Linked DNA regions of Homo sapiens: regions 1, 3 and 4 are each linked to region 2. The links come from fine-mapping of genetic effects on gene expression. A gene starts in region 2. Each other region holds a variant in brackets. All regions are shown on one strand. Distances are between the middles of the regions.

Region 1 (7,552 bases), 58 kb after region 2:
GGTGGGTGGGGGGTATGGGGAGTCTGTAATGGATGGGGGTATGGGGAGACTGTGATGGGTGGGGGTATGGGGAGACTGTGGTGGGTGGGGGGTATGGGGAGACTGGTGGGTGGGGGGTATAGGGAGACTGTGATGGGTGGGGGTATGGGGAGACTGTGATGGGTGGGGGTATGGGCAGACTGTGGTGGGTGGGGGGTATGGGCAGACTGGTGGGGGGGTATGGGGAGACTGTGATGGTAGGGGGAGTCTAGGGAGACTGTGATGGGTGGGGGTGGGGGATACTGTAATGGGTTGGGGTCTGGGGAGACTTGGATGGTTGTGGGGGTCTGAGGAGACTGTGATGGGCTGGGGGGCCCCAGGAGACTGAGGGTAGGAGGAGGCCCAGGGGTCTCTGTGCAGTGGGCTCTGGGGAGCTCACAGGCTGACCTCACTGCTGCTGCCTCCCTCCCTGCAGGAGCAAGCTCCTGTGGCTGCATAGCCTGCTGTCCTTCTTCTACTTCATCACCAACTTCATGTTCATGGCTCATCACTGCCTGGGGTTTGCACCCAGGAATAGCCAAAAGGTAAGTAGCCTACAAAGCTGCTTCCCACTGTGGGAAGCTGGGGTCCCTCCCCACTGGGCTGACCACTTCCAACCCTCAGAGAAGCCCTCAGAGGGTCCAGGGAGACTGTGATAGATGGGAGGGGGCGGTTTCACCTGAGCAGGGGCCAAGCTTCCTCCCTTCAGTCCTAGTAACAATCACCTGGCCCCCACCTCTCACCCTTCTCCACCCTCTCACCCTCCTCCACGCTGCTCCACCCTCTCACGCTCCTCCACCCTCTCACCCTCCTCCACGCTGCTCCACCCTCTCACGCTCCTCCACCCTCTCACCCTCTCACCCTCCATCCTCTCACCCCTAATGAAACTTTCAGACTGGTTGGTAAATAGCTGCTGCCCAGGTACCTCCTATCCCTGCCCCTCTGCTGCCCCGCCCCTCCCCAGGGACTCTTGGACTTCCCACCATCTGAAAACTAAAGGATTAACAAGGCCCAGTGGACCAGCGGGGGCCTCCATGCTAAGTGGTCTGGGCCCTGCTGAGCTGCTGCTACTTAGTGTACCTGGCCCTGCCCACCCCTGCTAGGCCCGTGCCTCGCCCTTCTGCAGTCTCTCGGAGATCAGAGACCCCCGTGTATCCCCACCGTCTCAGTTTGGGTGACCCCATCCAAGCAGACCCTGAGACTTGGAATGAGTAGCGCTTGTTTATGGGAGGTGATCCCAGGAAAGGCCAGTAAGGGAGTGAGGATGCAAAGGCAACCAAAAAAAGGGAGCATGGAGGGGCAACTTACCCCTGTGGGCAAGTGGAGCTTCATGACCAGGGAACTCTGGGAGCTGGTGTAGAGCACATGCCCCAGAATTTTCCTGGAGGTGAGCAATCGTGGGTATTTTCCACCAGCTCCCTGTCCACCGTTCATTGAGGGTTGCGCTTGGGGGCTTTAACTCCTCCCCTACTTGGCCCTGCACAAAAGCTGAACATGCCCCAAGGCCGGGAAAGAGCAGTCGCAGTATTTGAAGCATGCTGCAGGTGTTGGTGTGCAGAGATGACTGACGGGGGGCCACGGGCAGGCACCAGCAGTGCCACCCATCTGGACCAGCACCCATGCTCTGCTGGGGATGGGCAAGAGTGAGGAGCATCCTTAGTTCCCGTCCTCAGCCTTTCAAAGGTTCAGTGGTGTGGAATCAGCTCCTTCCAGGCCGTCCATTCAAAAGGACTGATTCACTTGAACCCACCCCAGAGTGCAAATCCACATTCCCTGAAAAGTGAACCCAAATGCTTCAGCCTGCCAGGCATGGAGGCTTGGTCACCCTTGACCAGTCTGGTGTCTGCTACTTCAGCTTTCCTTCTTGTCACCAGAAGCCTCTTTCAAGACCCCTGATTCTTGCAGCACAATTACCAGACTGTCATCTTAAAGGTGACGACCCAGGAAGATATTTCCCATTCACAGAATAAAGTGTGAAGTTTAGGGAAGCTTCCCTACCCTCTCCCCAGAGTCTTGTTTACTTCCCAACTCCCCGGCCCAGTCTCACGTGAGGGATTTCCCTAGAGATGTGAGGCTTTACGCTGGAACAGTGGAAGCTACAGGGAGAGCAGAAATCACTGTGGGGTCGCTCTGGCAGCTCTTTCCAATCATGGAGCTCTGATCCTCCACCCCAGCCTGATGGCAGCTTTCCAGTCCTTCCTCCCTTCACCACAGCAGTCCGGAGCAGGGCACCCACAGCTGGGCACAGAGGAGAACGGAAGCACAGTTGACCAACCTCAGAGCTGCCTGGCTCAGCTGGGACGCTGTGGGCTAAGGCAGCTGGCACTTCCTTGGCCCACAGTGTCCCAGCTTGGCTCTGGCTTTCTTGGCTCTCTCAGCAAGGAGGCACTGGCATCAGCAGCCTGCTGTGAGCAGAAGGCCTGCTCTGAGCCACCAAAAGACTGAGGTGTCTGGAATTCCTATGCAAGCACAGTCTTCTTTCTCCATTTTTATTTTTCCCACCCAGGTCACAAGGACACTAATGATCACCTATGTGCCCAAGGACATTGAAGACCCAGAACTCATCATTAAGCATTTTCAGTAAGTGGGTTGGGGTAGGCCAAGGCGTGGATTGCTTCCTCCCCATAACCCCGCCTGGGTCCTCAAGTGGGTAGTGAGTTGGTGCAGGATGGTGGGACTGGGACACCCCGGGGTGGCTCTCCCTGGACTCAGCTCAGGATCAGCTTTTTAGAATGGGGAGGGCCGCTGGAGCTGGAGCAGGGTGTCTGAAGTCAGGGACTTCCTGCATGGCATGGCTGTGATATGGGTGATGGGAATTTTTCTTTCTCCTGTTGCTTCAACTACTGAGCACAGGGAACCTTGGATCACAGCTATTTAGAGAAGATCATCTGGAGACATCCTTTGTGACCCCAAGTTCCCAGCCCCAAGGACACTGTTCACTGAGCTAATTATCTCTTCGTGAACAGCTGTCTCCTGGGTTCCCCAGTGGGTGGAGCTCCGCCCTTTTGCCCTGTTCTGAGTTGTGTAGGAAGGATTTGGCAGCTCTCAGATTGCCAAGGTTCAAACCCTGAGGTTCAGCTTTAGGAGCAGAGATGGAGTATCCCATCCAGGAACACCAGGCAGCTGAGCCACCCAGCCCTCAGGGCCGACATGCTGGGCAGGGGGTAGGGGCAGCACATCCCCAACCCCACAGGCCGACTCAGCACCCATGTTTGTGGCTGCAGCGAGGCCTATCCAGGCAGTGTCGTGACAAGAGTCCACTTCTGCTACGACGTCAGGAACCTGATCGACTTGGACGATCAGAGGTGAGGCTGCAGCGGGGCCTTTTGGGGCCCGGGGTGGGGGTAAAAGGGGAGGATGGGGCTCTGCTGGCCCCTGACCTGCAGGTCCTTCTCCTGTTGCCCACCGCTGGCAGGCGCCATGCCATGCGGGGCCGGCTTTTCTATACAGCCAAGGCCAAGAAGACTGGGAAGGTGATGATCAGGATCCACCCCTGTGCCCGCCTGTGCTTCTGCAAGTGCTGGACCTGCTTCAAGGAGGTAACTGGCTTGAGCGTTGGGAGCACAGCAAGGGAGCGGTGGGGTCCTGGGGCTCTAGGCTCTGTGCCTTTGCCCGCACTGTTGGGCCCCAGGCCTCACTCAGGTCTGCTCTAGTGCTCCCCACCCAGCTCCTTCCTCCCCATCCACCATGTCCTGCCTCCCTGTTGAGATGGGAGCCTTTCTGGAGGCCACCTTCAGAACAATCCAGGGAAGCTTGCTGCTGTCTCCTTTCTGGTCTTGGATGGGAGAATGAGAGAGAAGGACCAGAGAAAACACAGCAGGCTACACGAGGCTGCCAGGCCTCAGGCTCCCAAAGAGA[T/C]AGGACAGAAACATTTGAAGGCAACAGCTTGTCTTATCACCTGACCACTGTGGCTCAAAGAGGGCGTCGAGACTCAGACACCTGCTTCAGGACCATGCCGAACTTCTGCCAGCCCAGAGATTCACCCTCTCTCGTGGAAATGCGGCAAACACATTCTCTCACCTCTCTGGGGTCCACCCCAAGCCTGAAAGCCCCCGGGTACCCCTAGCTATGCCTCACTTTCCCCAGATCTAAGGGCAGGGGTGAATGGCAGTCATCGCCTCTTCTTGTTCTAGAGGTGGGACTTTGGAGGCCAGCCAGGGTCCTGGGCTCCTTGAGGTGCTTCAAGGCCACCACAATCCAGGGAGGCTTGAGTGGGGAGGAACCTCGTGACCAGGGAGGCCTTCCTGGGGCTCTGGCCCCAGCCCTGAAGGCTGCCTGCCACCCCAGGTGGATGCAGAGCAGTATTACAGCGAGCTAGAGGAGCAGCTAACGGACGAGTTCAACGCCGAGCTCAACCGCGTGCCGCTCAAGCGGCTGGACCTGATCTTTGTCACCTTCCAGGACTCCAGGATGGCCAAGCGGTGAGCACCAGGCAGGCGCCCCACCCAGCCCCAAGCATACTCCTGCTTCTCGGCACTCTCCTCCCTCTCCACCTCCAGTTTCCCCTTCTGCCTCCCCTGGGCCCTCCATGCTCGTCACAGGCAGCTGCCATCTGGCTCTCCAGTGGATGAGATGGCCATACCTGCTTCCCCCAGCTGCTGGGGCCCAGCTGCTCTCAAGGGGTGCCCAGGCCGGGGCTCCTCACTCCCTGTCCTTGCTTTAGCACAGAGGTGGTCAGAGAAGCCTTTGACCTCATGGTCCCTCTTCTGCCCTTGACAAGAATGACATCCCTTTTCCCTTTTTCTTTTTTTTTTTTTTTCTTTTTTTTTTTTTTTCTTTTTTTGAGAGAGTCTCGCTCTGTCACCCAGGCTGGAGTGCAATGGCACAATCTCAGCTCACTACGACCTCTGCCTCCCAGGTTCAAGCGATTCTCCTGCCTCAGCCTCCCAAGTAGCTGGGATTACAGGTGCCTGCCACCATGCCCGGCTAATGTTTGTATTTTTAGTAGAGACGGGGTTTCACCATGTTGGCCAGGCTGGTCTCGAACTCCTGACCTCAGGTGATCTGCCCACCTCAGTCTCCCAAAGTGCTGGGATTACAGGTGTGAGCCACTGCGCCCAGCTGACACACACATCACTCCCTCCTCACCATAAGAGAGCGTCAGGATAGAGCAGCTCTGTTTGCCCTTCTCCTGCCGCAGGCCTCCCCTAATTCATAGCTCTACAGTCCCCTCTCTTCTCTGCCCCAGCCTCTGGCAGCCCATGCGTTGACAAGGAGTGAATTCAGTCCACTCTGGAATGTTCCAGAAGGATCCTTAGGACTGGGCCAAAGTCCTAAAGGAGCTCCAGAATTTATCTCTTAAGAACTGTGGGGGGCAGGGGGGCTCTTCTTTCTGGGGGAGGCTGATCCTGTACAGCACATTGTTCCCACCTACCCCAACCCTACAAAGGAAGAGCAGAACTACCTAGATTTTGCTCACAAACAATGGTACACAATTTTGCAAGTTCCTTACACTCTCAACTTTTTATCTGGCAAATTTGGTTACTGATATCTGTCCTGTTCACCTCCCGGAGGGTTGACAAGTGATATGCCTTCTATTCAGTTTCTGTGTTGTTTAAAGCAATACACCTACCTAAGGTTATATTGTTCATTCTTTGAGACATTGCCATTTGGTAGAGAGGATCCGGGGCTTAATTACAGCAGAATATGAGCTAGCAAGCCAGAGGTGGGGCTCCAGCACCTGCTCCTCTTTGGTCACATCTCTAGGCACCTCGATTTAGTCATCTGTGCAATGGAAATGATACTGGTCATCAATTAGCACAGTGTCAAGCACACAGAAAGAACTCAATAATTAGTAGCTATTGATATTAAGATGAGGCTAAAAGTAGTACCTCCCTTATCAAATCTCAAAGAAAGAGTGTGTTTATGTGCTGTCACTGCTGTTAAGGGGAAAGGCAGAAACAGAACCACGTGGCACCTCTGCCCTGCCTGGGCAGTCTAGGCACCCTCAAATGCCCTTTCCTCCAGATACTGGGCCTTAGGAACTGTCCACCTCTAAGGTCCTGAAGACATATCCAAGGCTTCAAGAATCCCCAGGAAGGGGATGAGCCCCCATCTGTAGGACCACCATAGTGGCCCTGAGCTCCTGGCATGAGACCCTCCTAAGCCCATCCCCCCACCCCCAGACCCACATTTCTTCCTCTTCTCCCCTCTCTGCAGTGTCCGTAAGGATTACAAGTATGTCCAGTGTGGTGTGCAACCCCAGCAGTCCTCAGTGACCACCATCGTCAAATCATATTACTGGAGGGTCACTATGGCCCCACACCCCAAAGACATTATTTGGTAAGCCTCCTCCATCCCTCCCCTCTCCTCTGAGCTCCTCTGAGACTGAAGAAGGCAGCAGGACAGGGCCTTCTCTCCCCATGTCATTGCCCAACAGAGACTCCAAGGGGACTAAGTTCCATGCTCTCCTAAGCACCACAACCTGTGTGTATGCCCAGACTCATTCCCACAAGTGTGGGTGGCATCCAACCCTTAGCAAAAAGGCTTTTCCTGCAGAGGGAACTCAGGTCCATTTTTTTTTGGCTCTATGCTCTGGATCCTTTATAAATGGTGTGACAGGGGACGGTCCAGGGTCCTGTTGCATGCAAGTCTGGGCCCAGGAGGCTGGATTAGACCAGGGCAGGCTGGGTCCACAGCTGGCCTGCAGCAAACAGCACGTGGGCTCTAAGAACTGATGTCTCTAAATGTGCCTCCTTCTTCCATCCTTCCCCAGGAAACACCTGTCTGTCCGCCGCTTCTTTTGGTGGGCCCGCTTTATCGCAATCAACACCTTCCTCTTCTTCCTCTTCTTCTTTCTCACCACGCCTGCCATCATCATGAACACTATCGACATGTACAACGTCACCCGCCCCATCGAGAAGCTGCAGGTGCCTCCTCTGCTCAGGCCAGGCCTGGGGACCCCAGGGAGATCAAGGAATAATTCAGGCGAGGATGGGATGGGGGGAGCCCCCTGGGAGGGGGCTGTGGAGCCCATACAGTGCGAACATTGTGGAGGTGGCCATGGTGCAAATGGCGGGGTAGGGCTTGCTTTGTTCTAAAGGGATGAAGGTGGGTGACTGCCAGTCTTAGGGACCAGGGCTAGAGTGGGAAGGGAGAGTGGGGAGTCCACAGGCAGGTCCTGGGGTGAGTTGGAGGGGGTGTCGTCCTGTCAACATGGGCTCAGAGGTCTTCATGAACGGGGTCATCCCAGGCCAGCTTGGGGTCCAGAGGGTGTGGCAAGTGTGAGTGGCTCTGCTCTCTGCAAGTTGTCCGAGGCAGCAGGCTCCTGGTTTGTGTAGTAGGGTTAAAGGTGAGGAAGAGTGAGGTAAGCCCCAACGCAGCCCTCTCAGAGAAGTGGGAGCTCAAGATCTGCCTCCACCTCCCTCATCTCCAGACACCTGCACTCCAGGCTGGGAGCCCTCAGCCCTGGAGGAACCATCTCTGAAGTTAGGGGATGCCTCCTGCTGATGGTGCAGGTCAGAGGGATCCTAGCCCATTTCCAAATTCTTTAGCCTCAAGACTGTTACTAGGAGCCTAGAAGGTCTCTTCTTCC
Region 2 (7,552 bases):
AAGGGGCTCTTAGCAGTCTCTGCCACACTGGATCTATTGAAATTTTGTGTGGAGTAAATAAAGGTGGGCACCAATTGAAGACACAAGGTGATCTGCAGAAAAAGCCCCTCCCCTCCCCTCCTCTTCCCTCACCTCCCCTCCCCTCCTCTTCCCTCCCCTCCTCTTCCCTCCCCTCCTCTTCCCTCCCCTCCTCTTCCTTCCCCTCCCCTCCTCTTCCCTCCCCTGCCCTCCCCTCCCCTCCTCTCCTCTCCTTTCTGATGTAGATCTCTCTATATTGCCCAGGCTGGTCTCAACCTCCTGGCCTCGAGAAATCCTCCTGCCTCAGCCTCCCAAGTAGCTGGGATTACAGGTGTGAGCCACCACACTTGGCTTCCATCCCCCTTTTCTGTACCTCTCTCTCTGTCTATTTTTTTTTTCTTTTGAGACGGAGTCTCGCTCTGTCGCCCAGGCTGGAGTGCAGTGGTGCCATCTCAGCTCACTGTAAGGGTTACTCAGAGTCCTTTTGTTTCTTTTATATTGTTCTGGATTATGTTCCCAGACCAGACATTGGAGGTTAACAACGCGGTCATGAAGACAATAACAGGCATAATCTTTCAGATTTGACAACTCAGGCCAAAGGCACTCCCACCCCAATCCACAAGTGAGAGCATGATAAGTGTTTTCAGTGTCACAGACCAGAAGGGCCTTTCTTTTGAAAGCCTCAGTTATTCATACCCATACACCTTTACTGAGAACCTTCTACAAGCTGACACTCATCTAGGTGGTTGGTTGGGACATTGGGGTCATCTCTTTCCCCACCACACAGCCCACCTGGCATCTCCATGGGTTCTCCTCCTTCCATGGGTTCTCCTCCCTTCCTTCCCTTCCCTCCCTCCCTCCCTCCCTTCCTTCCCTTCCCCTTCCTTCCTTCTTTCCTTCCTTCCTTCCTTCCTTTCTTTCTTTTTCTTTCTTTCTTTCTTTCTTTCTTTCTTTCTTTCTTTCTTTCTTTCTTTCTTTCTTTCTTTCTTTTTCTTTCTTTCTCCTCTCCTCTCTTCCCCTCCCCTCCCCTCCCCTTCCCTCTCCTGCCCTCCCCTCCCCTCCTCTCCTCTCCGATGTAGGTCTCTCTATATTGCCCAGGCTTGTCTCAACCTCCTGGCCTCAAGAAGTCCTCCTGCCTCAGCCTCCCAGGTAGCTGGGATTACAGGTGTGAGCTACCACACCTGGCTTCCGTCCCCCTTTACTGTATCTTTCTTTTTTTTTCAAGACGGAGTCTCACTCTGTCGCCCAGCTGGAGTGCAGTGGTATGATCTCAGCTCACTGCAACCTCCGTCTCCTGGGTTCAAGTGATTCTCCTGCCTCAGCCTCCCAAGTAGCTGGGATTGCAGGTGCCCGCCACCACCCCCGACTAATTTTTGTATTTTTGGTTGAGACTGGGTTTCATCACATTGGCCAGGCTGGTCTCGAACTCCCAACCTCAAGTCATCTGCCCGCCTCAGCCTCCCAAACTGTTAGGATTATAGGCGTGAGCCACCACACCTGGCCTCTCTTTACGGCATGACCTTGATGCTTATCAGGTTTCTCCTCTAGGAGGTGGAGTGGGTTGGATATGGGCTTACAACAGCTTCTGTGATGATGAAGCAGAGAAGGAAAAGACGAACTGCTTTTGTTGAGAATTTATGCTGTCCCACCAGACTGTGAATAGCATAACTACAGCAACAACAATGAATATTTGCAGAGCATTTATTTTGTACATGGTATTTCATTTAATCCTCACAATCACCCTTTAAGCTTATGATTATTGTTTTCCCCCATTTTCCATATGCCAAAAAAAAAAAAAAGCACAGAGAGGTTAAGTCCCACATTTAGGTGGCCCAGCTGGGACTGAAATGCAGGCAGCTAGCGTTCCCAGCACTATTCTTGTATTGATCTGATTTGTCTTTGTACCCGCCAGCCTTTATCCTAGAAGAGAATAAAGGTGTCAGAGCAGAGGGGTGTGAGACCTCAACTAGCCCAGCCCTCTCAGAATTACAGATGAGAGGGAAAAACAAAGAGAGATCAAGTGAGCTACCCAAGGTTGCACAGCATGATAGCCGCTAAGCAAGGGCTGGAACCTAGACCCTGATGCCCTGTTGCCACTGCAGAATACGTGTTCAAAAGTCTTCCCGTCCCGTGAATGAAAAAGATAATGAGTGGGCCGGCGCGGTGGCTCACGCCTGTAATCCCAGCACTTTGGGAGGCTGAGGCGGGCGAATCACGAGGTCAGGAGATCGAGACAATTCTGGCTAACGCGGTGAAACCCCGTCTCTACTAAAAAATACAAAAAAAAAAAATTATCCGGGCGTGGTGGCGGGAGCTTGTAGTCCCAGCTACTCGGGAGGCTGAGGCAGGAGAATGGCGTGAACCTGGGAGGCGGAGCTTGCAGTGAGCCGAGATCACACCACTGCACTCCAGCCTGGGCGAGTGAGTGGATAATGGATAGACTTCGACAGAGTCTGTCTATGTGGCTCACCCTTGGGTCTTCGTGGGGTGGTTGGGTCATGAGAACCAGGGGGTCAGGGGAAGAGGGAGATGACTAGAGTGCGCCAGCCTGATACGGTTGTGTGGAAGGGGGTGCTGTGCTGCTGGTTATGGGGAAATCAACCCATGAAAGCATAACCAGCCTTTGACCCCCTCCTCTGGCACCTCATGACCTTGTGTTCACAGGGCTTCCTCTATGGCATTCTTATCATATTGTTAACAGCCCTAACTGGTGAAAGGGAGTCACTTTCAGAGAGCATTGGGCAGTGGCTTCTTTCCCATCAGCTATTGTACTGCAAGTGCCAGATAATGTCGATGACATAAATGTGCCTAGGCCCCTGCCTGGGAGGGAGAGGCTGTTTACTACTGCCCCTTGTTTTGCACACTGGTCTTTGGGGGTTGCAAACACTGGCACCTGTCCTCGGGGTCAAAACCAGTGTCTATAGCAGAGTGGGCAGGACTTTGATGAAACTCTGATACCTGCAGGATTGTGGCCCACCGCAAACCGGAAATGACCCAGCTCACTCCCTTGGCCCTCCCTGGTGGGGCTGTGGCCAATTGTAGATCACTCCTTTGCTGTAGAAGGAGTCTGGGTAGCAGCTGGGTACCAGCCACTAGGCTGGTGCCAGGACCTGGTCCTTGGGCGGGGCAGAGGGCTATCTTTGTGGGAGTGGAGTGGCTTTTCTTGCTTCTGGCTGATGGGACTAAGGAGACTGGGAAAGGCGACATGCCTCAGGGAGGGCGAGGGGAGGTGGCAAAGGAGCTGCCAAGGCCCAATGCATCAGGGCAGCTGGAGCAAGCTGGAACCAGGGACCGGCAGCCTTGTGTGTTTGAGATAGTAATTTGCAGATGGTTCCTGGTAGCGACAGGGTCTCTGAGGCGGAGCCTGGGTCTTCGCGTAGGATCTGCCAGCCTGGGTTCCCCGGCAGGTCAGAGAAGCTTTGGGGCGGGGCCAAGGTTGGCCCCTGCTTGGGAGGAGCCGGGATGCCTCTCTCACAGTGATGCAGAGAGGAATTTGCTGACAGTCCCTTGCCAGGTGGGGCTGGCTTCGCCCAGCCGGCGAGGAGGAGGACCCGCTGGCAGTCTCCTCCCAGGTGGGGAGCGTGGAGCCTGTCACTGCAGCCTGGCGGCCTGAGCGCCGAGCCTGGGGCTGGGGCCGCGGTGCTGAGGACGCAAATGTGGTGAGCACGCGATGCGGGTGCGGTGACCGGGGCTGGTCGGGCCGGGAAGAAGGGGCGCCGGATCCAGGTCCCGCACGGGGAGGGGGCGGGGAAGGATTGCTTGTTTCTGTGCTTTCTGAGACCTTGCATTGGGAGGGATGGGGGTAGGGGAGACTGCGCCACAGTCCCTTGCCACGCTGGCTGTCTCTAGCTTGTACCCAGGAAAGGGTGGCCTGAGCCGCCCACCCGGGAGGGCGTGGCTTTAGTAGACCGGTCTTCACTGGGTTGGGGGAACGGAGGTGGGTAGGAGGTTTGCTTGGGGGGTCCCCGGCCTCCTGCCTGACAGCCAGGTGGGAGTTACCGCTCGGGGCTACCCTCTCCCCCACCCAGGGATTCCCCGGGGCTCTGCCGCCCACTCTCTGGGCTGGGACGGGAGGGGGCAGTCTGCTCCGCCGTTATGGGTTATGACAACGTCACTGCTGCGCTGCTGCCTGGCGGGCTGGGCTCCTGGGCCCCCAGGGGAACAATGCCACCCTTTCCCCATGTGCTTCCAAAGAAAGGCTCTTGCCTCCCTACTCGCCCTGGCCTTGAGAGAGGAACGTTGTGTTTGGATGAAGGCCCTGGGGAAACTGAGGCCCAGGGGTGCTGTGGCTTGACCAAGGTCACTGAGCAGGCCCTACAGAGCTGGCCTCCCAGGCACTGCCTTCACCGAATGCCCTCTGGAGGGGCAGGGGCCCTTCTTCCTCTCTAGACCCCAGGACCTCCCCCCACCCCAGCACCCCATTTCCTCATCCCTGAGAATGCAGGGAGTTGCAACTTCCGCATGGGGCTCCAGGGTATCATGGGTGTAAGCAGCAATTAGATTGTCTGGGGACAGGAGAAAATTGCTCATGAAAAACACCTAAGTGAGCAGAGGGGGTGTGAGCGTGTGCTGTTCTTGTGGGTTCAAGGAAAGAATGAGAGTTGGCTTTGAGGAGAGGAAGGCCCGTGCTGATGGGAATGAGGAGATGAACTTTCTCCTTCAACAGCCTGCAGCGCTCCAGGAAGATGTGTTTTCCCTCAAGAAAGGGTCCATCTCTTAGCACCACCCTCTGTTATCACCTTATCCTTGTTCTCTCTCCGGCCCCTGTCCCTGGGAGAAATGGGCTACATTCCGTCTATTGCCCTTAGAAGTGAACTTTCCCCTTAGAAGTGAATTCACCTTGTTCTTCTCCCTGGGACAGATGACCTTCCCTGGAGGGAAACTGAGGCAAGGAGAGAGCGACATTTTAGAGCCAGAGCCAGATGAGGAAACTGAGGCACAGAGGGTGGAGTGAGTTCTCCAGGTATCTTACCTACATGCAGGTCTTCTGACTCCCCAGCCACCAAAGGGCAGACTGGAGGGGCCTCTTCCTGTCTTCTCTTCGCACCCCACAGTCCCAGCGCTGAGAAGCTGAGGCTGCAAGGGCCTCCTGATGGGTGTGGAGGAGGTCGGTGACAGGGAACAGCACCAGCATTTTCTCCTCCTTTAAGATATGTTTTCTAGTTTCTTGGGAAGGAAGCAGCTTGAAGACGGGAAGTGAAGTCTCTTGGTTACCTTCCCATCATGCCCCCACAGGGATACACAATTTCTGTGGGCCTATCGGAGCCAAAAACAGGCATCCCTCCTGCCCGAGTGCCAGCAGCTGTGAGCATAGCCAGGGAGTGGGGATCCACAGGTAGAGGGACTTCATTTATCTCCCTGACAGCATCTCCGGATCGGGGGTTTGGGCCAGCACCGGTTTACTCCAAGTGAAAGGAGTTGCCATGTGCCTGGCTCATGAATTGCTCCTTTTCAGACACCCTCTGAGCACAGAACCCCTGACGCTGGCCCCTGCTGGCTTCACAGGAGCCTTGGGTTGCATGATGACCACCAGGAGCTGCTGGGGTGACCTGTGGGAAGGGATGGGGTTCCCAGTAAACCAGATGAGAACTAGCTGCTTGTGGGGTGACAATATAGCACCAGAGAGGAGAGGGCCCACCATACTGGAGGGAAACCACATGGTATGTGTCCCTCCCAGCTAGCAGAGAAAGGGTCAGGCCTCAGAGAGGCCCCGTGGTGAGAACCAGACTTAAAGAGCAGAGAGCTGGACCGAGTGCCTCTATCGGCAGGCACTCTGCCCTCAGCATCTCTACCTGATAGCTAGGCATGAAAACACCTTCTCCAGATGGGTGGGAGGGCTTTGGAAACTTGTCAAGTGTTTATTACAAATGGGAAGTATTATTCCTGGAGTCTCTGGTCTAGGTGGAAGCCATCTGTTTCCTGCCTTGATGGGGGAAACATGGTCATTTCTTCTTCAGAGGATGCTCTCTCCCTCTGCGGCCAGCCTAGGGCATCCTTCTAGGCTGGGAAGGCAGGTCAGCCCTCCCCAGCCCGCTTCAAGTTGTGCTTGGGCCCTTGAGGAGTTTCATCCCCTCCATCCCCAGCTGCCCATTATAGTTAACATATTTAACAGGATGTTCACCCCCGAAAATGCAGGTGTCTAGTGGCACCGTGGAGCTTCCTACAGGCCTGTACCCTCCCCACTGCCTCAACTCTCGAATTCCACGACCTCTGCTCTGATTCTTCCTGGGAAGAGGCGGGTGGAAGAACCATAAAGATAATGGGTGTAAAGTGCTGGGAGCTGTTTGCACAGAGCGTCCAGTTTGCAGGAACCCACGTGGTGCTCAGGCCATGGGCAGGCTCACACTGGGAAAGGCTGTAATGAAAGTGCTCAGAGGAAGTGCTCAGCTTCCAGTGAGATCAGCAGCTTTTAGTGCCCTGTTTTGCCTGAGGTGGGGCCCCAATGCTCACTCTTCTTTCCTCTCGTGGGAGAGCAGTGGTTTTCACAGCTTACACATCAGCATGGGTGGTGTAAATGGAACTCCACATTCTTGCCCATGAGTTGGCTGGTGCAACTCCTGCAAGGTAGGGTTACAGGAGGAGCTGAGATGAGAACGTGGGCAGCTCACGAAGTATGGTGTGTCCTTGCTCTAGATCTGTCTGCATTGCTTAGGCCCAACTGAGGGTGGCTCTTAAGAAGAACAACGTGTGGCCAGGACTCCATGTTCTGTGTTTCTAGGGCAGGATATGTACTCAAGCTGCCACATTCCTTGCCAACACCCCTGGGGCTGGTGCTGAGACATGCAGAGGCAGAGTGGGCGGGGAAGGGGCGCCTCATTGTCACCTCCTGCCTCCTTGTAGTCATTAGTAATGCTCCCCAAAGGGAAACCGAAGCATAGACCTGCTTAGAAAGCTAGGACTAGGACCCAAGTGTCCTGGGCTCCCACCTTCTGCTTTTCCCAGCCTTTCACTCTGCCATTTGACACGAGCACCCTCAAGATGAGATGGGAAGAGCTGGGCTGGAGGTGAGTGAGTCATGCCCAGCCCTGTGCCTGTAGACCTTCATTCCTGCCAAGCCAGGGCCTCTGGTGTCCTTAGAGGATCAGAGGCAGAAAGATCAGCTTCCAACAGGAAACCAAACTGTCCCCTCCCCATTACTGAGTGGCCTGGCCAAGGAAGGTCCTGGAGGCAGAAGCCTTCTCCTCACTCTGGCTGAGTCTTCTCAGAGTTGTGCCCAGCAAGGTGCATGCTGGCCTCAGGCCATCGAGTCCCAGCAGAAGAGCAAGTGACCCTAAGGTCTTTGGAGAGATAGGTGGGCAAGATGGAGCTGTGGCCAGTCCGCTGGGATACAGCTGTCCATTGGGTTTTGGGTGTTGAGGACTCATTGCCTTAGGGTGTCTGAGTGGCAGTGATTTGGCCATAGGGTAGAAACACTACAGAGGGCAATGGAACATGCACCCAGGGCCCTGTGGGGAAATCAATCCTGCTTTGATGGGGGACATGGAAGCACAGAGGACCTGTCATACATGGACACGCTGCCTGGGGGAGTACTTGG
Region 3 (7,552 bases), 84 kb before region 2:
GCCACTGCGCCTGGCCCACTTTTAAATATTTTTAAATGACTTTAATTTTAAATTCAACAATTATTAAACAATCGTTTATAAATATTTTAAATTGTATAACATAATACACTTAAAATATCTTCAAATAAAACTCGGCCCATGGCTGACTCTTCATGGTATCCTAGGCAGGGTTAAAAACTCAAATCCTCACACGGATAGGCAGGTTACAATTTCAAGAAGTAGATGGGAAAAAAAAAGAAACATTCGCAAGTCCCTAAATGTAGGATTTAAGGGCGCATGTCTCCCCCTGCTGGTTGTGGTGGTAGGAAACCGAACCTAGACCACAATGGTACTGGGGAGAACTTGAATTGGAAAGGACCCTACAGCAAGAAGAATAGGTGCTTCAGAACCCACTATCCATCACAGGGTCCTTACCCCATCCATCATAGGGTCCTTACTCCAACCAAGAGTAAAGAGAGTAAAGTGAGTGAAGGTTAAAGAATTCGTGGCACCAGTAAACTATCAATAGATGCTGATTTACAAATCTTGGTAAATTAATAGGAAAGGAAGAAAAACGTTTACGGTGGTTTAGCTACATAAAAATATTCACTATCAATCTTCATGAATTGCTTATTCTGTATATCTAATTATATAGAATCATAGCATAAAATAATCATAAAAATTATGCCTATCATTAGTCTTGATTCATTTGGTTCCATTACAATACTTGTCTGAAGCTTAAGTTATTGGTACAGCATGGCTGTCTGCTCAAGATGTAGGTAAAGTCAAGGAAGTTTGGTTTATTTGCCCCTTCGGAGGACTAAGAGGGCCTCATGCTTTCGCATATTTCACTGATTCTTTTTTGCTTGGTATGCATTATCCCCTCACCTGCTTCCATTATTGCAAACCCAACTTTCAAGCTGTCTTTAAAGCTTTACCTGCTGGTCTCTTTCTACTCCAACAACCGAAAAAGAAAGTTTTTTTTTTCTCCCTTAATGTTATTGTTTTGTTCAGAATCTTTTGGTAGTTATCCCATTCTCTTTCATATTGCTTATTACATCATGTCTTATTTCCCATATCAGATTGTAAGTTATTTGAAGGCAGACTTTTATTCTTTTTTTTTTTGAATTTTATTTTTGTTTTGTTTTTTATTTAAGTTCAGGGATACGTGTGCAGATTCGTTACATAGGTAAACTTGTGTCATGGCGGTTTGTTGTACAGATGATTTCGTTACCCAGGTATTAAGCCTAGTATCCATGCTGCTGTTTTTTAAATTTTTTATTTCCATAGGTTTTTGGGGAACAGGTGGCATTTTGGTTATATGAGTAAGTTCTTAAGCGGTGATTTGTGAGATTTTGGTGAACCCATCACCTGAGCAGTATACACTGCACCCAATTTGTAGTCTTTTATCCCTCACCCCCTTCCCACCCTTTCCCCTTGAGTCCCCAAAGTCCACTGTATCATCCTTATGCCTTTACATCCTCATAGCTTAACTCCCACTTATGAGTGAGAACATACGATGTTTGGGTTTCTATTCCTTAGTTACTTCACTTAGAATATAAGTCTCCAATCTCATCCAGGTTGCTGCAAATGCCATTAATTCATTCCTCTCATAGTTTATTTATTTGCCCCTTCGGAAAACTAAGATAGGACCACACCTCATGCTTTTGCTTATTTCATTGATTCTTTTTTTGCTTTGTGTGCGTCGTACTCTCACCCACTTCCATTACTGCAAATCCAACTTTTAGCTATCCTTAAAGATTTACCTACTGATCTCTTCCTACTCCAACAACCAAAAAAAAACAAAGTTTTTTTTTCTCCCTTTATTTTATTAATTAGGTTTTGTTCACAATCTTCTGGTACTTATCCCATTCTCTTTCATATTATTTATTACAGCGCGTCTTATTTCCCATATCAGATTTTAAGTTATCTGAAGGCAGATTGTTTTATTCCACTTCAAAAGAAGGCAATATATTAATAGCTTCATGGATAAAAGCCACGGTTTTCGTTTGTTTGTTTTGGTGAGACGGAGATTTGTTGCCCAGGCTGGAGTGCAATGGCACGATCTCGGCTCACCGCATCCTCCGCCTCCCAGGTTCAAGCGATTATCCTGCCTCAGCCTCCCGAGGATTACAGGCATGTGCCACCACGCCCAGCTAATTTTGTATTTTTAGTAGAGACGGGGTTTCACCGTGTTGCCCAGGCTGATCTTGAACTCCTGACCTCAGGTGATCCGCCCGCCTCGGCCTCCCAAAGTGCTGGGATTACAGGCGTCAGCCACTGTGCCTGGCCAAAGCCATGGGTTTTTAGTTGAGTCCTAATGGGCAAAAACGCCACACAACTGGAAAAAAATACCACCTGCGTCATAAACTTGTAAGGAATCATAAAAGGATGCATATAAAGCGGCCCGGCTCCTAATTACTTGGTAATTGTTAACTATTGCTTTCACTCTGTCCCCAAAACAAAAGCCTTACATGGTGTAGGCATATTACTTGTTGGTAAAGCTGACTACTAACAAGTACACCCATACCCAGTAATACATTAGAATTACCTGTGTCTAGAGGACTAACGTGATTAACCACGACCTAGCAGCACTTACAAAGGCCTGGATGACCAGTATAAAACAATTCCCCACTATCTAAATCAGCACTGTCCAATATAACTTTCTGCGATGCTGGGAATGGGCTATATATAATCTGCACTGTCCAATAAAGAGGTCACTGAGCTCCTGAAATGTGGCTAGTACAACTGAGAAACTTATCCAGTCGTTAGTGACCATCTTACTGGACAGCTCAGCTCTTGAATCTGCCTCGACCCGTCAACTCTTTAAACTCGCCCATGTCCTCTTTTTCACTAGCGAAATAATTCTTTTTCTAAGTAACCTTCACTGATTCAAGGCATCAGAACGTCAACTGATCCCAAGCCCTTTTTTTCTTTAGCTGTTACACACGTGTGTTCACCGTGAACCTTCACCAAGAAACAGCATCCATATAAAACCCATAGCACATGACAAAGTCAGTCAAACATCAAAGGTCATGAAATCATCTACTTAAAATAACTCATCGCGCCTCGACCTCGTGAAGCACGGTCTCGAGGGTGGACGGGAACAAAAAACAAACAGGGCGACAGGCGTAGAGAAAATGCGAGGAGCACGCGGGGAGGTCTGGCACCCCTGTCACGGCGACTCCAGGCTGAGGCCGCCCGCACGCCCGCTCTCCCACGCCGGGCACTGTCGCTCCCGGCACGCGCACAGGCCGGACAC[G/T]ACTCGCCCCGGCCCCCACCCCCAACGGCGGCACGGCGGCACGGCGGCACGCACCAAGACAGTGCGAGAGTCGCTCCTCTCTCTGTATCGACTCCAAGCCGGCCCCACCCCCGGCTCCTCTGAACCCCGCCTGGAAACCTTGCCCAAGCCGCTCATTGCTCAAGGCCCCCGTACAAAATGGCGGCGAGGCCTGAGGAACCAACCATAGAGACGCCCGCCGGCCGCGGACAGAGCGTAGGCCTCTGAGCGCTGGCCCCGCCCCGCGCCGGCCTGGTCTTCCGGCGGGGGCGGGGAAAGGGCGCATTTCCAAGGGCCCTTCTAGGAGAACAGCGTGCGGTCTCCATGGTGCCGGGTCATCCGAGTCGGGTCACGTGGCTGGCGAAAGCCGTCGCGGAGGCGTGGGGAGGAGAAATGGGCGGGAGGCTGTGGGGATAGCGAGACACCCAGCGACGACGAGGTTGTCATGGTGCCGCGGGGCCGTGCTCGCGCATGCGCCACCTGACCCACAGGCCGGTCGTGGAGCTGCGACCCCGGCCCTAGGTGAGAAAGGGAGGGCTCGGTCCGGGAGGAGGGGAGCAGGGATGACGGCGGGAGAGGGATTGGGCGAGGAGCGTGGGGAAAGGAGGTGGAAGTAGGGGAGAGAGGAAGAGGAGCGAGTAGGCAAGAGGGGCAAACCGGGACTTTCGGAGGACGGAGAGCCAAATGGTGGGAGCAGGGCTTTGGTTTGCTGTGAGGGGCGTGGGAGAGGGAATCGCGGGTGAGGAGGGGGCTGCGTGTGGGGAGGAGGCTTGTGTGAGGGGCAGGTGGGCCCTGGTCTAGCCCTGGGCGCAACCGCCAGCCGGCTGGGCGGGGAGAGAGCTTGGAGTCCAGCCCGGCTGGGAGCTGAGGGCCAAGCAATGGGCAGGTGAGTGGGCGCCAGAACTAGTAACTGGGCGAGGGTCCTGGGCTTCCGGTTTGAGGTCGGGGGTGGTACCCTGTTCTGGCTCCAGGGCACAGGTGTGCTGCCTTTTCCAGAGACCTGCCGTCACCCTCGTTGCTGGTTGTTTCCCCTGAGTGGCCAGCTTGCCAGGCTTGGTGTCGGGGGTAGTGTTTCTGGGGAGAAGGTGGGCAGTGCCAAGTAAGGAGTTAAGTGGTTAGTGGGTGGGTTCGGGGGAGCTCTGATCCCGGCCCAGGTCACAGGCTGGAGCTAGGCTCCCTGTTATTGCTCAAGTCCTGGCAGTATGCATTGCCTGGGCGTTTGCCCTGGAAGGCTGGTGGTATGCCAGTCACAGCACAGTACTAGGGTCTGCCCAGTTTTGCCCTGCTGAGCTGGCAGGCTGGTGGATGCCTGGAGGGTGCACATGCTGCCTGGCACAGATGCAACGTGGGCTGGTGCGAATGGGTAGGTGGGCACTGTTACTGTGAACTAATTGCAGCAGGGGATCGGAGAAAGTTCTCTAAGCTCATCTCCCCTTTGAAAGGTGAAAATAGAGCCAAACTGGTCTAAAACATAGGAAATTGTATGGAATTGGGGTTCAGGATCTTTGACACGAATTTTCAGCCAAGTTGGAGAAATGGAATGAATGTGGAAGGGAAGATGAATATTAGACATTTAGGTAGACAGGGTTTTTCCACTGTTAAGATACCCAGACATTCTCCCAGAATGGTATCCCTGAATATGCAGGCCAAAAGAAAATGACTTCGGAGAAAAGCTAGTAATGTATTTATAATTCTAACGGGGATTACTCAAGGTTTTCTTTCTGTGACCTTATCACTTTATTGTATTTAAGCCTCTGGTTGGGCTTTTACCTCACACTTCTGTCCAGGCACACATGTTATACACGTGACACATTTTAAAGGGAACTTGAGCTTCCAGGAATGTTGCCAAGTGTCTATAAAAGGAGAGATCTGAAAGCAGCATTTCAGATCCTTTTCTTGTAACCCTGGATCTCCTTTTTAATCATAAGGACAAATCTTCACAAAGATTGTTTGTGGATTAGATCAACCCTTAATTTGGATGGTGGATTTGTCCCTGACGTTTCAACTTAGAATAAGGGGTAGATCAAATATCTGTTTCCTGCAGGGGACCAGACGTGGAGGTTAGATCTTAAGGTGACCGTGGTGTTTGGAAATGCAGAATCTTGACCTTCAAGCTGTTCAGGTATTTCTGTGACTGCTAAGCTACTAGAGCTGTCAGAGACTCAGCAGGTCAGAGATTTGTTGGAATTTATTACTCTATTGAATGCCTCATGTTAATTGTTGGGGGCTGAGGTTGCAAAGATGAAAAAAACAACTCGAGGTTGAGGAGACAAATAATTAGACTAATGTCAGAAGTGCAAAAAGAGTAGTAAGAGCTAAATGCTTTGGAGCACTTGCTAGGATTTTGAATTTTGTCCCCTTATATAAACTTATATATTTATTGATTCACTTTCTTTCTTTCTTTTTTTTTTTTTTTTTTTGAGACGGAGTCTCACTCTGTCACCCAGGCTGGAGTGCAGAGGCACAATTTCGGCTTACTACAATCTCTGCCTCCCAGGTTCAAGCTATTCTCGTGCCTCAGCCTCTTGAGAAGCTGGGATTACAGGCACACATCCCCAAGCCCAGCTAATTTTTGTGTTTTTAGTAGAGACAGGGTTTCACCATATTGGCCAGGCTGGTCTCCAACTCCTGACCTCAGGTGATCTGCCCGCCTGTGCCTCAAAGTGCTGCTGGGATTATAGACGTGAGCCACCTTGCCTGGCTCTGATTCTCTCTTTTCTTTTCTTTTCTCTTCTTTTTTTTTTTTCTTTTGACGGAGTCTCACTCTTCACCCAGGCTGGAGGGCAGTGGCAACATCTCGGCTCACTGCAACTCCACATCCCAGGTTCAAGGGATTCTCCTGCCTCACCCTCCCAAGTAGCTAGGATTACAGATGTGTGCCACCACACCCAGCTAATTTTTGTATTTTTAGTAGAGACAGGGTTTCACCATGTTGGCCAGGCTGGTCTCGAACTCCTGACCTCAGGTGATCCATCCACCTCTGCCTCCCAAAGTGCTGGGATTATAGGTGTGAGCCACCACACCCGGCCTGATTCACTTTCCATTATGAGTTTTAGTGTGTACTATCCTCTCTGGGAAACTTTTGGACAATGTGTTACATATACATGCATAAGAGGCCCAATTAGGGTAAATTCTGACAGTTTTGGAGCCTAAATTAGCCCTTTTAATGCAGAATAAGGTACATGTGTTTGTAAAGCAGCGTGAGTGATTTCCAGTCTATGCCAGGAAGCAGGAAGCAGAAAGAACACAGTGGGTAAGAGCTTAGTAATCCATTTTCAACTCCTAGTCAGTGTGAGCATGTAACTTTATTGTAAACTAATATCTAAGAGGAAAAAAATCAAGCAACTTCCCGAGGTTTTCAGACTTTGCCTTGCAAATTTTGGGGTTGAGAGCACCAGTAGTAAGTGAGGCTTTATGTGGTGCTATGTGTGAGTGGGTCCCTCAGCCACTCCCAGGAGGGCAGTGCTGCTACTCCTCCGAAAGAGTAAAGTTTGGGGAGGGATGTAGCCCTTTGTTCTACATCCCATGTGAGCCTCCCTGGCTGCAATGCTAAGGCTTTTTGCTGCTTAAGAGAACTTTACTGAAGATAGAGGCTTTCATATTTTTAATCATTTTCATATGAAAAATAGTCAATTTGCCATCCTAAAGTCGATTTTACATTCTTTATTTCCAACTGCCACCAACTCCCCAGGATCTAAATTTAGCATCTGTTCTCTTTTTAACTTACCTCTGTGATACCTTTCCTCACCTACCATAAGGGTCATAGTTGACCCTCCCATAACAAAAGACAGGTTAACAAGAGAAAAACATAACAGTTTTATTTAATCAAAGTTTTTTTTATGACACAGGAGTCTTCAGAAGTGAAGCCTCCCAAACTCAGGGAAAACTGTCTATTTTTATGGTTAGGTTTGATGAAGAATGGACGGCTGTGTAGAAATATGATTGGACAAAAAGGGTATGATCTGGCTGGGCATGGTGGCTTATGCCTGTAATCCCAGCACTTTGGGAGGCTGAGGTGGGAGGATTGCTTGAGTCCAGGAGGTTGAGACCAGCTTGGGCAACATAGCAAGACCCAGTCTCTACAAAAAATTTAAAAATTAGCTGGGTGTGGTGGTATGCGCCTGGAGTCCCAGCTACTCAGGAGGCTAGGGCAGGAGGATCACTTTAGCCCAGGAGGTCGAGTCTGCAGTTAGCTGTGATCGTGCCACTGCGCTCTAGCCTGAGCAACAGCGTGTGATCCATCTATAAATAAAAAACAAAACAAAAACAAAAAGAGTATGATCTAATAGTAAT
Region 4 (7,552 bases), 46 kb after region 2:
AGGACCCTCAGCACATGGCATCAAAGATGCCACCAAACCACGCCAGGTTTCATGATGTTTACTGAGGTGCAGGAATTCAGAGGGAAAGAGACCTTCCTCCTTGCAACACCCATATCAATCCCCTTAAGGGATTTTTTTTTTTAATTTTAATAAGTGGGGTCTTGCTGTGTTGCCCAGGCTGGACTCAAACTCCTGGGCTCAAGTGATCCATCTGCCTCAGCCTCTTGAGCTGCTGAGATGACAAGTGTGAGCCACCATGCCTGGCTTCCTTAAGGAAATTTTAATTGGCCCCACTTGGGTAAAGTTCCCATTGGCCAGTCAATCACTGGAGGCAAACTCCCACTCGGACAGAGTAAGAGTAGGAGCCCACTGGACCACACGCATCCAGTGAAGGACATTTCCAGAAGGAAGCATGAAGGACAGACAGAGAGCAACAGACGTTCACCCCAGAAGCAGTCACTTCTCCCCCTCCAGTTCAAGGGTCACCTTCTAAACCCCATTTCCTATAACAGGAGGGCAGAGATGTCCACTCATTTCCAGGGAAGCATCTCCCTCCACAGTCACCACTGGTTCCCAGCTGAGCCTTCAGACTCTTTTTCCCAGGAAGGAGGCCCCGGACGCTGCCGCGGCTGCCTCAGATGACCTGGCCGCCTGGGTTCCCAGAGCTGGGCAGGGCAGGCCAGGACCTGGGTTTTCTCACAGTTTCTCTCCTTTCCCCGCAGGGATTCTGTTCCTGGTTCTTCAACAGCATAACAATGAAGTAAGTGCCCGGGCTCTGTGAGCTTGTGACCGTGTTGCCTTGGGGGTGGGGGGTGGAGGCTCCTGGAAAAGTTAGCAGCCCCCAGCCTGGGAAGACAGGGCCTGAGCTCCGTATCCTCCCCGCCACCTCGGCCCATTACCAGTGAAGGATGCTTTCCTGGGGTACAGTTGGTGACGTGAGAACTGGGCACAGCCCACTGCCCCTGTTATCTCTGCCTCAGTCCTTAGGGAAGGACCACTTTTAATAGCTGAATCATTACTCGCGTGCTTATAGAAATGCTTCTGTGAACTCCACACCAGGAAAAAGAAACCCTTCCTTTGTGCTATCTGCTTGATTTCTGTGAACATCATTCAACATATCATGTGTTCGCCCTTCTGCCCAAGCAAACATCGGGCAGAAGGGCAGGCCTCGCTCGGCCTCAGTGCCTGGAGAGCAGAGGGGCAGCCCTTGCCCACCTCACCTTGTGGGTTTCTTGAATGCCAGACCCCACTTTGCAAGCAAGCAGCCCCCAAGTCACCTGTTTTCTCCTGCAAGCTGACCTCAAGTTACGTGTTTTCTCCTGATTCCCCAACACCAGCCAGACGCTTCAGCAGAGCAGACACTTACCGGAACTCTATGTTCCCACTGCGTAGGCATACACACATGCACACTCATACATACACGCACACACACGTACACGTGTGCACACAGCTCTGCCTCCACCTCAGACCCCACACACTCATGGGCTCTCCCTCAGTGTGCTCCACCTGTCCTGTCCTGCCCATCCTTTAAACCCCTCCACCCCACCCCTACCCAAAGACTCCTATCACAGAGGCCCCTCTGTCAGGGACCCAGCATCTGGGAAAGCAGGAAGGCAGGGCATTGCACCGTGCATCCAGCAGCTCTTGAGAGCAGTGTCATAGAAGACAGCTTAATGCGTTTACTGAGCAGCAATAAGTCAAGTAGCGTCCCCGTGCACAAACCCATGCGGTCTGGTTGGAGAAACAAAGGTGAACAAGACTCCCTTCGTAGCATTCAGAATGGGAGGGTTATAATTGCTGTGCAGACGGCATGTGGGGAAGAGAGAAATTAATTCCAACTGGAAAAGTATAGTTTTGAGCTGGGCATTGGAGGACAGGAAGAGTTTCGACAGGCGCGATGTGGGATGTGGAGGGCACATCAGAAGTAAAGGACCGTGTGAGCCAGTTTGTTGCAGAGATGAGTAGGGTGTGCACAGACATGGTAAATCTGGTGTGACTAGAAGCAAGGTTTCATGGTAAGTGTGGCGGGGGAGGGTAAAAGATTGGGCTGGAAGGATCAGTTGGGATTTTTTTTTTTTTTTTTTTGAGACAGAATATCTCTCTGTCACCAGGGTGATGTGCAGTGGCACAATCTCAGCTCACTGCAACCTCCGCCTCCTGGGTTCAAGCAATTCTCCTGCCTCAGCCTCCCGAGTAGCTGGGATTAGAGGCACGTGCCACCATGTCCAGCTAATTTTTGTATTTTTAGTAGAGACGGGGTTTCACCATGTTGGCCAGGCTGGCCTCAAACTCCTGACCTGAGGTGATCCACCTGCCTCAGTCTCTTAAAGTGCTGGGATTACAGGCATGAGCCACCGCACTGGGCCTCAGCTGGGACCTTGGCTGGCATACTGAGAATCTTGGGCTTTCATCTAGAGACAGTAGAGAGCCAATTAGTATTTTTAAGCTGGAAACTCAGAACAATATATGTGTGTAGGCAGAAGTATGGAGAGTGAATGGCATTAGAGAAAGTCCAAAGTCAAGGTGAGCAGTTAAGGAGGCTATTCCAATGGTCGAGGTGGGAGGTGCTAGTGACCTGAACCGGGGCAGTGACTAGAGAAACAATGGGAGGGGAAGATGGGAGGGAGATCATAAGGCTACAGTCAGTAGGTTGTGGCCTAGTTAAGAAAGAGGGAGAAATTGAGGTCTGGTTTCTGGGGAGGGTAGTAATGCCATTAGGTGGGAGAGGAAACACAAAATGATGAGATGTAGTCAGGGCAAGTATGCAAGCTGACAAAGGAGCTGTTGAAAAAACAAGATTGAAGCCTAGGAGAAAGGTCAGAGTTAGAGATTTCAACTTGGGAGATGGTGCATGGAGGCTGTAGTTGAAGTCATGGGAGCAGATGGGTCATCCAAGGATGTAAGACCAGAAGCGGCCCAAGGGAGTGCCTCATCGAGGCGGGAGGAAGAGGCATCCTCTGGGCTGGACTCAGTGAAGCCAGGCCAGGACAAGGCTCCCCTCTAGGGTGGGGCGACCCAGAAACCTCTAGTGCTACAGAGGTGGAGTAGAATGGGGGTTGAGGAAAGGACATTGACTTTGGTGAGTTGGGTCTCTGTTGGGAGGGCAGGCCGAGGATAGGATGTCCAAGACACAGAGGCAGAGAAGGAAGGTCACCTTTTTCCAGAGGTGCATGGAAGGAGGGAAGTGAAGCTACTGGAAGGAGGAGGGAAAACAGGTCAGGGAACAGATCAGAGAGTGGATCCTTGAGGAGCTGTTTTATTACAGAGGAACCAACAAGCACTTGAGCCTGGTTGTAGTTTACAGGGAAGAGGTGTGGGTGGACGCAGGTGCATGCAGAGAGAGGAGGATGCCGAAGATGAGAGAGCAGAACAATGGATCCAGCACGTCTTCAGAAAGAGGTGGAAGGAAGGGAAGCAATGAGAGCAGAGACAGAGAATTAATTGTGAGTAGGAAGAAGGGCGATTGGCTGGAAGGTCAGGGTGGGGCACTTACAAGAAAGATGGAGAAAGGAAACAGGCCTAGTGGTGGAGGCAGGAATTCCTGGCCCAGGAAGAGAATTCTAGTGCTCTCAGTGCCATCCAGTCCTGTCCAGCCCTCTGCTCTCTCCACCTGATTGGAGGCTCCTGGACCTCACCCCGCCTCAGGCAGTGCAAGAGGACCTTCCCCCGCTCTCCAGAAGTTCTCATCCATTCCACTTCTGGCATTTCATTCTCAAGTCCAGGGAGGGAAACGTTTAGCCGCTCAAAGTTAAAAAATCAAGAGCTCTAAATAATTCCTCAAATGAGAACATTGAAAACCTTGAAGGTGTGCCTTTTGTAGTATTGTTTAAAAATAAATCTTTTTTTTTTTTTTAAGACGGAGTCTCACTCTGTCGCCCAGGCTGGAGGGCAGTGGTACGATCTCAGCTCACTGCAACCTCCGCCTCCCACGTTCAAACAATTTTCCTGCCTCAGCCTCCCAAGTAGCTG[G/A]GATTACAGGCACGTGCCACCATGCCTGGCTAATTTTTATATTTTTAGTAGAGACAGGGCTTCACCACGTTGGCCAGGCTGGTCTTGAACTCCTGATCTCAAGTGATCTGCCCATCTTGGCCCCCCAAAGTGCTGGGATTACAGGCATAAGCCACTGCACCCGGCCTTAAAAATAAATCTGAATCCCAGACTGGATGCTAGTTTTGCATACAACCTACAATCCTGACAAGGGGGCAGGGGTGGGTAAACCATGGTGTGTCCACCAGTGGAGTGGGGAGGCCTGCATGGTGCTGAGCATGAACCAGTGCTCCATCAACAGAGGCCACTGTCACCATTACGTAAAACCATCGGAAAATGCTTGAGATTAAATGCCAAGCAAAAGAGCAGTGCATCAAATGCTTTTTATAACTATAATCACCAAGTAAAATGAACACAACAAGAAAATAAAGGAGGTTGGGCATGGTGGCTCACACCTGTAATCCCAGCACTTTGGGAGGCCAAAGCGGGCAGATCATTTGAGATCAGGAGTTTGAGACCAACCTGGCCAACATGGTGAAACTCCGTCTCTACTAAAAATACAAAAATTTGGCTGAGTACACACCTGTAATCCCAGCTATTTGGGAGGCTGAGGCAGGAGAATCACTTGAATCTGGGAGACAGAGGTTGCAGTGAGCCAAGATCATGTCACGCACTCCAGCCGGAGCTATAGAGTGAGACTCTGTCTCAAAACAAACAAACAAACAAAAATTAAGTCCAAATGCTTATTATTATCATTATTATTATTTTGAGACAGGGTCTTGCTCTGTTCCCCAGGTCACCCAGGCTGGAGTGCAGTGGCATGATATTGGCTCACTGTAGCCTCAACCTCCCAGGCTCAAGCGATCCTCCTACCTCAGCCTCCAGAGTAGCTGGGACTACAGGCACATGCTACCACACCCAGCTAATATATATATATATATATAGTAGAGATGGGGTTTCACCATGTTGCCCAGGCTGGTCTCGAACTGCTGGGCTCAAGCAATCCACCTGTCTCTGCCTCCCAAAGTACCGGGATTACAGGCGCAATCCACCATGCCCAGCCACAAATGCTTTTTAATCATTGTCTTAGGTTCAATGAGATTGTAGATGAATTATTTACTTCTTTTTCATATTTTCCAAAGTTTCTATGAGCACTTGTTGCTTTTAAATTGTTTAAATTGAAGTATAGCATGCACATGGAAAAGTGCACACCAAAAAATGTACAGCTCGGCCCGGCATGGTGGCTCACGCCTGTAATCCAAGCACTTTGGGAGGCCGAGGCAGGCGGATCCCCTGAGCTCAAGAGATCAAGATCATCCTGGTCAACATGGTGAAACCCCGTCTCTACTAAAAAATACAAAAAATTAGCTGGGCGTGGTGGCGCACACCTATAGTCCCAGCTGCTCGGGAGGCTGAGGCAGGAGAATCACTTGAACCCGGGAGGAGGAGGTTGCAGTGAGCCAAGATCGTGCCACTGCCCTCCAGCCTGGGCAACAGAGCAAGACTCTGTCTCAAAAAAAAAAAAAATGTACAGCTCAGTCATCACAAAGCTAAGGCTGTGCCACCATCATCCTGATCCACAACTAGAACATCGCCAATACCCAGCAGCTCTCTTCCTGTCCCCCAACCTTCATCCCCATCCCATTCTAACTCTATAGCTCAGTATTGCCTATAGCTGAACTTTATGTTTGAAACCACACAGTATGTGTTGTTTGTGCCTGGTAACTTTTACTCAGCATTGTGTTTGTGAGGTTCAGCTATGGGTCATTCATTTTTATTGCTGTGTAACAGGGGTCCCCAACCTCCAGGCCACAGATCGATACCTGTTAGGAACCTGGCCCCGCAGCAGGAGGTGAGCGAGCATTACACCTGAGCTCTGCCTCCTGTCAGATCAGCGGCGGCATGAGCTTCTCATAGGAGCACAAATCCTATTGTGAACTGCACATATGAGGGATCTAGGCTGCCTGCTCCTTATGAGACTCTAACTAATGCCTGATGATCTGAGGTAGAACAGTTTCATCCCAAAATTATCTGCCCCCCCACCACCCCACACCCAGGTCCATGGAAAAAATTGTCTTCCACAAAACTGGTCCCTGGTGCCAAAAAGGTTAGGGACCACTGCTGTCTAGTATTTCATGATTTATATATCACAGTTCTTGTGTCCATTTCACCTTGATAGACATGTAAGTTGTTTCCAGTTTGAGGACGTTACAAGTAATGCATCTGTGAAATTTTTATACATGTCTCTAGGTACACATGTCATGCATTTCTGTTGGGTATAAACCTAGGAGTGAATTGCTGGGTCATAGAATGTGCATGTATTCCATTTCAGTAGATAATACCAACTGTTCTCCAGTGTAACTGGGCCAGCATATACACCCATGAGAGCAGGAGAACTCCCAGCGCCCCACACTCTCACCAGCACTTAGTGTTGTCCAACTTTCCAACTTTGGCAAATCTGGCAGTGTGGAGTGATAGCTCATTATCTCGTCATGGGTTTCAGGTGTTCCTTTTTTCCTAAGAGTGCCTCTCAGTACCACAAGTGCTTTATCTGGTGCCTGCACCATAGCAACCACTCAAAATGTTTGAAGAAGTAATAAAAGGATGAATGCATGCTCTATTTCAAGAGTGTTTCTGGATTCCTGAGTGTGTATCTGTAACAGAGCCCCTATCTTTGATATGTCTGTGAAATTCAGTTAAAGTATACTTCAAGGATAACCGAGGCTTTGAGATATAGGGCAATTTCGAAGTTGCCTTATATATGAGATATAGAGATAGTAAAAAAAAAAAAAAACTTGGGGAGGGGGTGATCATTTTCTGCCCTTCCCTCTACCTCCCCGCAACAAGTGGTGGCCACGCTGGCTCCTGAGGCACGTCCTTGTCTGTGTGTCTCTTCCAGGGACGAGGATCTGATTAACAAGTGTGGGGACGACGCGCGCATCTACATCGTGTTCCAGTACCACCTCATCATCTTTGTGCTCATCATCTGTATCCCCTCCCTGGGCATCATTTTGCCCATCAACTATACTGGATCTGTTCTGGGTAGGCAAAGCTCAGCTGGCCCTGGGGCAGCAGCTGGACCTGAGAGGCAGCCAGGCAAGCCAGTCAGGGCTGGGGTTGAGGGTCTAGACATCTATTTTAATCCTGCCTCTGGGAGTTTGTTGTTGTGTGAACTTGAACAAACCATGCTTCGCTTCTCTCATGTGGAGACTGGAGACGATTCCTCCTTTGTCACAGGTTTGGCCCAGAGCCTGACACACAGCAGGCACATAGTATTAATTCAGTTTGGAACTGAGTGTTCATTCATGGCCCCACTCTGGCTGGGCGTTCCTGGAGACCCTTTTGTGACATGTGACCCACTGCAAAGATCCCTGAACCCACTCTGTTGGACATAACACCATAGGTGCAGAATTTGTCTTGTAGGACCTCTACTCCCACTCATTGGAACAGGGTGAGCCCTTTGGAGGGAACAGCATTGTGGATGAGACCTTGGCTTCTAAAACAGAAAAATCATGGCTCCACAATGTTTACCCACACCTGCTCCCCAGAAAATACCTTTGCCTAG

Direction of the effects. Positions count from the first base shown, and alleles are read on the strand shown. Sizes are in standard deviations (SD) of each study's normalised expression. Not every link is listed here.
For the expression in cerebellar hemisphere of the gene that starts at base 3,578 in region 2, allele T in region 1 goes with a lower level than allele C (large effect, 0.80 SD a copy in GTEx).
In carriers of allele G in region 4, the expression in cerebellum of the gene that starts at base 3,578 in region 2 tends to be lower than with A alone (large effect, 0.84 SD a copy in GTEx).

Evidence for each region. PIP is the estimated chance that this variant, and not a neighbour inherited with it, causes the effect.
Region 1: its variant is fine-mapped to the expression of TMEM63C in cerebellar hemisphere (GTEx, PIP 0.97).
Region 3: its variant is fine-mapped to the expression of TMEM63C in whole blood (TOPMed, PIP above 0.99).
Region 4: its variant is fine-mapped to the expression of TMEM63C in cerebellum (GTEx, PIP above 0.99).

Annotation. Positions count from the first base shown.
Region 1 is chr14:77,236,170-77,243,721 of GRCh38, forward strand. TMEM63C (transmembrane protein 63C) reads left to right here. Exons shown (of 24, transcript NM_020431.4): 9 at 455-563; 10 at 2,525-2,598; 11 at 3,243-3,323; 12 at 3,434-3,557; 13 at 4,306-4,439; 14 at 6,178-6,300; 15 at 6,734-6,887. Among named protein-coding and RNA genes, the nearest start is that of MIR1260A, 26 kb to the right of the region's middle. The variant T/C (reference allele first, on the strand shown) is at 3,877.
Region 2 is chr14:77,178,221-77,185,772 of GRCh38, forward strand. TMEM63C (transmembrane protein 63C) reads left to right here and starts at 3,578. Exons shown (of 24, transcript NM_020431.4): 1 at 3,578-3,674. RefSeq lists an enhancer at 3,899-4,028.
Region 3 is chr14:77,094,581-77,102,132 of GRCh38, forward strand. CIPC (CLOCK interacting pacemaker) reads left to right here and starts at 3,678. Exons shown (of 4, transcript NM_033426.3): 1 at 3,678-3,781. LOC124903350 (a long non-coding RNA gene) reads right to left here and starts at 3,438. Exons shown (of 2, transcript XR_007064275.1): 1 at 3,296-3,438; 2 at 1,885-2,320. RefSeq lists enhancers at 2,909-2,958, 3,320-4,149, 4,289-4,448, 6,563-6,612 and a silencer at 3,139-3,288. The variant G/T (reference allele first, on the strand shown) is at 3,242.
Region 4 is chr14:77,224,702-77,232,253 of GRCh38, forward strand. It overlaps TMEM63C (transmembrane protein 63C), which reads left to right. Exons shown (of 24, transcript NM_020431.4): 6 at 723-760; 7 at 6,887-7,029. Among named protein-coding and RNA genes, the nearest start is that of MIR1260A, 38 kb to the right of the region's middle. The variant G/A (reference allele first, on the strand shown) is at 3,970.